Homo sapiens: one gene and its partner. The protein of the gene in region 1 purifies or fractionates together with the protein of each later gene. This does not show direct contact. Each region holds a gene or a part of one and is shown in the gene's direction. Other genes may lie near its edges.

What was found. The genes of interacting proteins can lie anywhere in the genome.
Region 2: the proteins of CXorf58 (region 1) and GDE1 purify together in Homo sapiens (affinity purification with mass spectrometry; 3 studies listed by BioGRID and IntAct, with this or other methods). This does not show direct contact.

The regions. Positions count from the first base shown.
Region 1 is NC_000023.11:23,903,984-23,911,005, forward strand, and holds the start of CXorf58 (uncharacterized protein CXorf58), read left to right. Parts: upstream 1-4,022; 5' UTR 4,023-4,346; intron 4,347-6,299; 5' UTR 6,300-6,319; coding exon 6,320-6,435; intron 6,436-7,022.
Region 2 is NC_000016.10:19,501,181-19,505,152, reverse strand, and holds the end of GDE1 (glycerophosphodiester phosphodiesterase 1), read left to right. Parts: intron 1-60; coding exon 61-272; intron 273-1,535; coding exon 1,536-1,683; 3' UTR 1,684-3,460; downstream 3,461-3,972. UniProt on the Homo sapiens protein: Hydrolyzes the phosphodiester bond of glycerophosphodiesters such as glycerophosphoinositol (GroPIns) and glycerophosphoethanolamine (GroPEth), to yield a glycerol phosphate and an alcohol.

The DNA.
Region 1 (7,022 bases):
TACTTGGCCCTCAGTCACCAACCCAGGTTAATCTACCCTTCACTTCCATCAGTAAACCTAAAGTATAAGGATCATGAAAGCTTTCCAAAGTGCCCAAATCAGTGAACACGACTCATGATATGTAACTAACTCATATCTCATCTAGCTTATATCTCCGTCATGGACATTGTTGGTTGCATATCCAGTCTCTATTCTCCCTCTTCCTTCCTAAAAGAACTCCATTGTGTTCATGAATGCATTCCTCTCCCCTGTGATTAAGTGACGCCACCCTGGGTTGATCCTGTTTAGTCTAAGCCAATCAGATCATGGCATTCCTCTGACAACTGTTACAGGGTCAGACAACTGACCTAAGTTGGTCCAATCAGACTGAAGGACCAAGTGTGGGAGTTTTTTCTCTCTCCTCCTCCTCTTGCTCTAGAGAATGAGAAAGTGTGTATGTTACTAGTAGTCATCTTGCAACCCTAAAGGAAACCAACCTGACTGTGGAAACCCAAGAAGAGATGGGTCCTTGATGACACTGGTTTTTTTTTTTTTTTTTTTTTTGGGACGGAGTCTCGCTGTCTCCCAGGCTGGAGTTCAGTGGTGCGATCTCAGCTCACTGCAACCTCCGCCTCCCGGGTTCTTGCCATTCTCCTGCCTCAGCCTCCCGAGTAGCTGAGACTACAGGCACCCGCCAACACACCCGGCTAATTTTTTGTATTTTTAGTAGAGACAGGGTTTCACCATGTTAGCCAGGATGGTCTCGATCTCCTGACCTCGTGATCCGCCCGCCTCGGCCTCCCGAAGTGCTGGGATTACAGGCGTGAGCCACCGTGCCTGGCCTGACACTGTTGACCAACTGAATCAGAGCCTGGAATCCATTCTTCCTCTGGACTTTGTGAGAGAATTTTCCTTACTATTTAAGCAGTTGGGTTTTCCCAGCTGAAAGCATCCTAACATAGCCATTTCTCCTTGAAACTTTTCTCCCTCGATTTTCTAAACATCACTCTTTTCTGCTCCTACTTCTGCTTCTCAAGTCTGGCCTCCCCCTTTCCTCTGCCTACTCCTACATTTTGGTGTCCTCCAAGGTTTGTTGTGATCTTTTCTACCCAAAGTACATGTTCACCTGAAATAATCTCAGTTCAGTCGGGCGCGGTGGGTCACACCTGTAATCCCAGCACTTTGGGAGGCCAAGGCGGGCGAATCACGAGGTCAGGAGTTCGAGACCAGCCTGGCCAACACATGGTGAAACTCCGTCTTTATTAAAAATACAAAAAAATTAGCCAGGCGTGGTGGCGGGCGCCTGTAATCCTAGCTACTCAGAGGCTGAGGCAGGAGAATCACTTGAACCCAGGAGGCGGAGGCTGCAGTGAGCCAAGATCGCACCACTGCACTCCAGCCCGGACAACAGGGCCAGACTCTGTCTGAAAAAAATAATAATGATAACAATAATAATAATAATAATAATCTCAGCTCACTATGTCTTTCCCTTGACACATCAAAACTGAGCTTCCAGCACTTCCCCCAATGGAATACCACTGATGTTCCCCACCCCTTTTACCTGAAGAACTCCTACCTGTCTCAAAACTAAATTTAAGTGTCCCGTCTGTGAAGCCTTCTCTGAAGTCCCCAGGGGTTCCTTACCTTTTTTTCTGCCGTGGACCTCTTTGGCCGTCAGTGAGTCCTATAGACTCCTTCTCAAAATAATGCTTCTAATTGCATACAAAAAAGTCCCAACTATATTGAAATAATCTTATTTTTTAAACTCAAATATCTGATATAAGCAGTATGTGCTTCTTTACTAGCCCACTAAACAAAAAGATCTAGCAGTGAGTCTTATAACTACCATAGTTCTGAAGTAGTAATGAGCATAAGTGATATTTTGACATCTGCAACAACTGTAATGTAATATGAAAATGTCTGTGACTTGTGCTGGTACTGTGACTTCTACTGGTAACAGGTACTGCTAATACTACTGTGATTTGTTACAGTAGGAACTTGTAAAATGAATGGCCCCCAGCGAAGTGCACCAACTCATATCTATGACCTTGTGTGGTTCCCCACCATATCAACTCTGGACTTGGCTACGTGACTTGTTTTGACATCAGCAAACATGATGCTGTGTTTGTGCCTTGGGACTTGCCCTCTTGGAAGTCAGTAACCAAGTGAGGAAGTCCAACCTAGGCACATGGAGGGGCACCAAGCCCCCAGACATGGGAGTGAAGCCAACTTTCAGTCAAGTCACCAGCAGAACTGCCCAGCCAACCCAGATTTTGAGAAACAATTCTTGTTTTAAGGCACTGGTTTGCAGTGATTTGTTACCCAACAATAGATAACTGAGACATTACCCATATGCGTAACTAAAGGAAGTGCTCAATTCCAATTGGAGATTGCTAAAAATAGTTATGTTTTTTCCCCATCAAAGTTCAGGGATCCTCTGAAATCTATGTGCAGATCCTTTGAGGAGCTGAGGGCCCCAGGTTAGGAACCCCTGGTTAAGCCAAGTGGATCCTGCTCTCCTTTTTACTACTTTACTACACTGTTGGTACACATATAGTTAAACTGGCCACAGCATATCTTTCCTTGTTGTAACCCTGAAATGGAGCTGAGCTCCTAGCACATAACAGGTGTTTAACACACAAATTTATCAAATGAATGTTGATTATAGGATCTGTCTTCCTGACTAAACTGTGAGCTGCCTGAAAACAGAGTAAGAGCAAATACTAGGCCTTTTCCAAGTGCTTTACACATACCAACTTACTCCTTATAACAACCCTATGAGGTAGATGTTATTACCCCAACTTCACCAAAGGAAGATAGGCACAGTGACTTGCCCAAGGTCACACAGCTAGAAAGTGGCAATGCCAGGACTAGAAGGCAGAATGCATGTTCTGATTTTACAGCCTTTATTAACGTACCCAAAGCACATTGCAGAGCTCAATAAAACTTTTAAATGAATAGTACAATTCTGAGATTTCATTAGCACTATTTTATGGGTACTATGCTTCTTGAAGACTCAATTTTGTAGATTAATTTCTGGTAGCCTGTGATTTTTTATGACAAAATACATATAATTTACTTTTTAAAAAGTAGAATAATGGCTTTATGCTAAAGTGCAGATTTTCGAAATTAAGTCTTCATCGTAAAAGTCGATTTTTTTCCAAAGGACACGAGTTCACAAAACGCAGGGAAGGGGGTCCACTGGCCCGTATTAAATAATGTTCCCTGAGGAGTGGAGCAAAGCTCCAGCTTCCCTCGTCACCCAGCCATCCCACCCCAGCCTCCCCCATACCCTGCACAGCTTCTCCTAAAATGACCCTCCCCCATCCACACATCAGGTTCTGAAACCTGACCCTGCCAGGCAACTAAAGCCGCGAACCCCACAGTGCCCTGAGCTGGCCTCACCCTACCCACGATCCCAAGAGGGTACTAGCCGAGGGGATGGGTACTTTGGGGGAAGGCACTTTAAATTTTCAAAGTGTTTAATTCACGAAAGCACAACCCAAAGGGCCGCCCCCACCCACCCGGGGGTCTCCCGCCTCCGCCCGGCAGCCGCTCATCCCCAGTAGACCAGTGAATGAACCGCGGGGCCGGGACGCAGCCGGCCCAGTGGCGGGAAAAGCCTCGGGGTGAGCCAGGCCTGGCTGCAGAGAGGCCCCAAGAGAGCGCGGGGAGGGCTCGGGCGGCCGGGAGGGGGCGGTGACAGCTGTGACTCGACTCCACGCTCTCACCTTGAACATGTCGCTGGCAGCGGAGGCTCCGGCAGGGTCACCCCGGCCTCGGCCACGCCCACTATAGAGAGGTGACTACGGAGGCCCGGTAGGGCCTTGATTTCTCCAACCGCAAGCAGGCAGCGGTGCGGGTGACGGCCGTACTGCAAACTCGGTGCGGCGAAGGTTTAGTTCAATCACCCGGTTCTAGAAGCCGCGTCGCTGAGCCGCAGCGCGTCGCGCCCGGGCAGCGGGTGAACGCAAACCCCGCCCTCCAGGAGGCTCCGCCCCTGCGCCGGCGGTTGCTAGGCGGCAAGAAAGCGCCGGCTCTGTGTGGACGGTACGCGGAGGCGCGAGGAGGGAGGCGCCTGGCGTTGCCGCGGCGCTGGGAAACTGTCTTTGCAGCGGCGACTGGGCGCCCAGCGGCGTGTACTGGGATTTCTGTGAGCAGAGGCTGCCGAGAGGGGGCGCTTGGAGGGCCACCGGCGGCTTCGAAAGCTTCGCAGCCGGAAGCCGCCGGTTGGCGGCCTGGATTTACCTTACGAAAGGTTTTAACCAAGGACTTGAGGTTTCTCAGGTTTTAAATTTAAACTAATATGCTGTGTCCTTTAATCGGAAAAGGCTCTGACCTTATTTTTTCCCGTTAAGAAACAAGCGGTAAGCCTCCTCTCTGGAAATCAAATGTTTGTCCCTTAATACTTGTAGAAGTAACTGATAATGGCAATAATTATCTTATTAACAAGAGTAAACAAGCACTGATACAGCACTTTGATATGCGCAGCCCTGATCTAAGTTCTTTATTCACATTCATCTAATCTTTCCAACAACGGAAGTAGGTGGGCATGATTATTATTCCCAATACATAGATGAAGAAACTGAGGCACGTAGAAGTAATTTGTACAAGACCACATAGGAAGTGGGAAGCTAGGATCCAAACCCATTAGTCTGCCTTTGAAACCTGTGTTCTAGCCAAAACAATTGTTGCACTGTCTCATAATGAGGATGTATTTCCTATTTCATTCTGTATTTCTGCCCTAATCCTATAAAAAGTGTAAGCCCCATCCAGGCGAGCATCTGGAAAAATTTAGAATTTGTACAGTGACGTGCCACTGCCCTCCAGCCAAAGACCACTAGGGGCACACCTGTAGTTGAAGAAATTGGGTTTCTCATTGCTGCAAGGAGAACGCACACGTAGGAACACAGTGACATATTTCAGTAAAAGAGTTAGATTTATTATAGGATTTGGGCTTTGGTTCGGTGATTTTGGGGCGAGTTCAAGGAAGCAGGAGCTTTGCTCTGGATCGGGTGTTGTTAGGAAGCAGTGGTAACACCAAGGCCCAGCTGTGACTGCCAGCCTTGGTGTTAGTTAAGCCCAGCTTAGCTCCCAGATGTTAAGGGCTGCTTTTCTCTTTCTTAAGAGGATTGTATATTCCAAGGCATCCCCAAGGAGAAATACTGAATAGACTCAGAAGGCTCTCTGCATCAGCAGTGTAACGTCACACATACATAAAAATGTGAAACATATTGATAAATTAGGGCAGAAGTTCTTAATTCAGGGGGTATGTGAACTTGTATGGGGGAAAAAATGACAACTTCATTTTCACTAACCTCTAACTGAACTTTGTTTCTTTCAATTATAGTGTAGATAACAAGCCACAGTAGTATTAACATTGATGACTTTGTCATCAATGGAAAGCACAGATATTTTCATGTTACATTGCAGTCATGTCAGGGATCTTGAAATATTTATGCTCGTTACTACAAAAATACAGTAGTTATTAGAGCTCATTTAATGCATTAAGAAGACACATTTACTATAATTTTGTTTTAAAAAATATTTTGATGATTTCAATATAATTGGAGCACCTTGTAATCCTATGTATTTTATGTTATGCGTTTTAAAACCAATTCTTAGAAGAGATCTGTCCATAGGGGTCCATGGCACCAAAAGAAATGATAAAGAGCCCCTGGTTTAGTAACAGAGACCAAGCAGTGAGTAAGAATTTGGGAGCTGCATCCAAATTGGAGCATTACTGCATCCAAACTCGTTGCTTTAAAGAATAGAAAGTTGGAGGTGGAATCAGAAATTTAGTGTATACCCTCTCACTTTACCAAGGAGGGAACTGAACCACTGAGAGGTTAAGTGACTTGCCCAAAGTCTCACTGCTATTTGGTGATAAAACTGGGACAAAACGTTTTTAGACAAACATGTAAAAACTCTCCACTGTGCTAGGCACTGAGGACTCTGTAGTTAACAAGATGCCTCCTGCCCTCAATGAGCTTGTTGGTAGACAGCTGGAGAGTGAGGAGATTGAATTATTGAGTTAAAAAGTTAACTCCAGGTGTAGTGTGGAAGATGAATAAGAGGAGAAAAAGACTGGAGACAGACCAGTTAGAAGGCTATGGATAGATTTACTTGTCTTTTCCATATACCATATAATATTTTTAGTACACAAAGAATGTAAACTGTAAGCAACTTTAAGAGATCCACAATGCCTTCCTTTTTAAAGGATTCAGAATTAGTACAACAATCATATGGCACTTGAGTCTTGTCCAAACAGTGTAATAGTATAAATTATGACCTCAAAGGGTTAATTTATGTACTTTCAGATTACTTCATTGGAGGGAAAATGAATCGTTCCTCAAATGTACCACGTAAAGGTATTCTGAAATCAGGTACAAGATCCTTACAAAAAGTTCGCAGAGTACATTTCGCAAATGCACGAAATGCAAGATCATTACTATCGTAAGTACCTGTGTTTTGCCTTGTGTTATCTTCCACAACTGTACAGTTTCCAAACAGTACTTATTCAGATAACTTCAAATGCTTCTTGTTTTGTAAATCAAAGTTTTTGTGTTTTAAAATTACTTTCAAATTGAGTAATTATAATTGCATTTTCTAATTTACAAAGCATATTAACACACATCTACTTGATCCTGATACAACCTTGTGAAACAATTTTTACATTTTATAAATGAAGTAGTAGCAACCGGGAGAAGGTAAGTGGCTTGCAGAAAGTTATCAGCTAATAAATGGCATCAGATAGGATTCAAAGGTTTGTTTCCACACTTCAGGCTTTTTCCTTTCTTTTTTTTTTTTTTTTTTTTTTTCAGACAGAGTCTCACTCTGCCACCCAGGCTGGAGTGCAGTGGTGCGATCTCGGCTCACTGCAACCTCTGTCTCCTGGGTTCAAGCGATTCTCCTGCCTCAGCCTTCCGAGTAGCTGGGATTACAGGCATGCACCACCACGCCTGGCTAATTTTTATATTTTCAGTAGAGACGGGGTTTCACCATATTGGCCAGGCTGGTCTCGATCTCCTGGCCTCAGGTGA
Region 2 (3,972 bases), on another chromosome or scaffold:
ACTAATAAGTATTCAACTTTACATATGATCATTATTTTACTTCCCCAAATTCCTTTGCAGATGAGACAAACAGATCGGGATGTAATAACAGCATTAACTCACAGACCTTGGAGCCTAAGCCATACAGGAGATGGGAAACCACGCTATGATACTTTCTGGAAACATTTTATATTTGTTATGATGGACATTTTGCTCGATTGGAGCATGCATAATATCTTGTGGTACCTGTGTGGAATTTCAGCTTTCCTCATGCAAAAGGATTTTGTATCCCCGTAAGTTGGAAGGTTTTTTATTTTACCCAGACAGACATCCTGAATGCTCTTATTTGAAAGGAAGGATTAACAGAGTAGACAACCTGAATTGGTTCTGACCTGCAAAGCTTACCATACCTCTAAATTGGATTACCAATTTCGCTTCTTAGGTGGGAAGAGTTCAGGCATATTTCACTGTTTTCAGACCGAGTCGATCACATATTTTCGGTTTTTTAGTGTATTTTGAAGAAAAAAAATGAACCTGTGACACTATGCTGAGCAAGGGATTTTATTTCTGTGACTGGTTTTTTTGAAAGCCAACACAGGATCCTGGGCAGAACCACAGTGAAGACATCCTGTGGGCACCAGCCTCCCCACTACCGTCTTATGTTATAGGCACTCCCCCACCTCTCCCCATAAAATTTCCATTTCCTAACCTGCTAGCGATCTCGGAATCATTTCTTTGGCAATTCTGTATCTGTATATTTCAGCTAATTAGAGTTGTAGGTCTAGTATTATTTCAGACATACATGATTCAGTTCAATAAATATTTGGTAAGTGCCTATACTATTGCAAGGTTCCATGTTGAGAAGCTGAAGATGCAGTGGGTAAAGAATCAAAGCCATGATCTCTGCCCTCGTGACGTTTATAGCCAAGTGGGAGAGTGAGAGATGCTAATCAAATAAAAATCCAATCAATATAAAGTTAAAACTAAGATACAGGCTATGTCAGAGAAAACTGTGCATGGGCTATAATCTAATCTGGTCTGGGTTGTCAGAAACAGCATCCCCAAGGAAGTGACAGTTAAGCTAAGATCTGAAGGGTGAGTGGGAATTGGGAGGAATCCAGATCAGAGAGAAAAATACATGTAATGTGCTCTGGCAGGAAGGAACATGGTTCTTTCCAGGAAGTGAAAGAAAATTAATATTCTTTCAATTAATTTAAAATTAATCAGCACAGAAAAGAAAGGGGGAATGTGGTGTGAGATGAAGCCAAGGAGACAGGTCGGGGCCAGGTCAGGCACACCTTCAGTGGCTGTGCCAAGGACATTTGGGGGTGGCGATCATTAGTGAGCTACTGAAATGTTTTAAGCTGGGACAGTGTAGAGGAGGTTCATGGCATCCTGGGTTTTGGAACAGTCCCTCTGATCACAGTGCAGAGGCCAGTTAGGAGGCATTCTCTGGGCACCATTGGTATGCAGTGAACACCATACTTAGTGGCCATTATGGATTCCTGAGACAGCTGCTTATTATTCTAACAGGATTGGCTTTCCTCTTTCCCCAGGGCCTACTTGAAGAAGTGGTCAGCTAAAGGAATCCAGGTTGTTGGTTGGACTGTTAATACCTTTGATGAAAAGAGTTACTACGAATCCCATCTTGGTTCCAGCTATATCACTGACAGCATGGTAGAAGACTGCGAACCTCACTTCTAGACTTTCACGGTGGGACGAAACGGGTTCAGAAACTGCCAGGGGCCTCATACAGGGATATCAAAATACCCTTTGTGCTAGCCCAGGCCCTGGGGAATCAGGTGACTCACACAAATGCAATAGTTGGTCACTGCATTTTTACCTGAACCAAAGCTAAACCCGGTGTTGCCACCATGCACCATGGCATGCCAGAGTTCAACACTGTTGCTCTTGAAAATCTGGGTCTGAAAAAACGCACAAGAGCCCCTGCCCTGCCCTAGCTGAGGCACACAGGGAGACCCAGTGAGGATAAGCACAGATTGAATTGTACAGTTTGCAGATGCAGATGTAAATGCATGGGACATGCATGATAACTCAGAGTTGACATTTTAAAACTTGCCACACTTATTTCAAATATTTGTACTCAGCTATGTTAACATGTACTGTAGACATCAAACTTGTGGCCATACTAATAAAATTATTAAAAGGAGCACTAAAGGAAAACTGTGTGCCAAGCATCATATCCTAAGGCATACGGAATTTGGGGAAGCCACCATGCAATCCAGTGAGGCTTCAGTGTACAGCAACCAAAATGGTAGGGAGGTCTTGAAGCCAATGAGGGATTTATAGCATCTTGAATAGAGAGCTGCAAACCACCAGGGGGCAGAGTTGCATTTTTCCAGGCTTTTTAGGAAGCTCTGCAACAGATGTGATCTGATCATAGGCAATTAGAACTGGAAGAAACTTCCAAAAATATCTAGGTTTGTCCTCATTTTACAAATGAGGAAACTAAACTCTGTGGAAGGGAAGGGGTTGCCTCAAAAGTCACAGCTTAGCTGGGCACAGTGGCTCATGCCGATAATCCCAGCAATTCAGAAAGCTGAGGCAGGAGGATTACTTGAGGCCAGACTGGGCAATATAGCAAGACCCCATCTCTAAAAAATTAGGCATGGTGGTGCATGCCTGTATTCCCAGCTACTCAGGAGGTTGAGGTGGGAGGATCACTTGAGCCCAGAAGTTCAAGGCTGCAATGAGCCATGATTACACCACGGCACTACAACCTTGGTGGCACAGTGAGAACCTGACTCTTAAAAAAAAAAAAAAAAAAAAAAAAAAAAAGATAACTAGAACTTCTAGAACATCTTGTTTACAGTTAGCCAGAAACTATACAAGTGGTTTAACATGCATTATCTTACTCAATCCATACAAAAGTCTTATGGAGGTGTTAGCACTCTTTCTACTGATGAAGAACTGAGGTACTTCATAAAACCACTTACCCAAGGTGTCTTGAGTCTGGTACAACTGGCATTCAAATCTAGGTCAGTCTGCCCCCAGAGCCACTACCCTTACCCCTCACTGAATCTGCCTTTATATTGTTGAGCCCATGACCCCAAACTGCTCTTTCCAATTTGAACTTCCAGGGATTTTATTGTGAACTTACATAGCAACATTAAAATGAAGTTGAATTGTTTTTAATGGCAACGCCGTCTGTCTCCTCTAGCTTACCGCTTCTCACCTTTCAACCCCATCTGTGGCCTTTGTCCAGGCCCACAGCTTAGCCATGGCTTCCCTCCTGCATCCCTGCCGTGGGTTGCTGGCCTCACACTTGCAGCAGCTGGACAGTGATTTTAGAAGGCCACCAGTCCCCATAGCTATGTGACAATGAGAAGCAAACTTTTTTGTGACAGATTGTATTGGCATAGGCATGATAGATGGGGATTGGTACGTTTTGAATCAGCATTTGCAAAAAAATTGTCTTGAATTTTAAAATAAACAACAAAGATTTGTTCATTGAGTGCAACAAATGTCTAAACTGCATGTACTTCCGTGCCATGTTATGACTAGAGTGAAAGGAGGAGGAAAAAGTGACCAAAGAAGATACATCAGGCCAGGCGTGATGGCTCATACCTGTAATCCCAGCACTTTGGGAGCTGAGGTGGGTGGATCACTTGAGGCCAGGAGTTTGAGACCAGCCTGGCCATGATGGGGAAACCCCATCTCTACTAAAAATACAAACATTAGTTGGGCATGGTGGCACATGCCTGTAATCCCAGCTATTCAGGAGGCTGAAGCAAGGAGAATTGCTTGAACCCAGGAGTCAGAGGTTGCAGTGAGCCAAGATTGTACCACTGCACTCCAGCCTAGGCCAGAGAGCAAGACTCTGTCTCAAAAAAAAAAAAAAAAAAAAAAAAAAGATACCTCTGTTCAACACTAGCTGTTCAACAGGCTGTTCAACACTAGCCTGGGCAACATAGTGAGACCCCATCTCTACAAAAAATTTACAAATAGGGGCTGAGATGGGAGGATCACTGG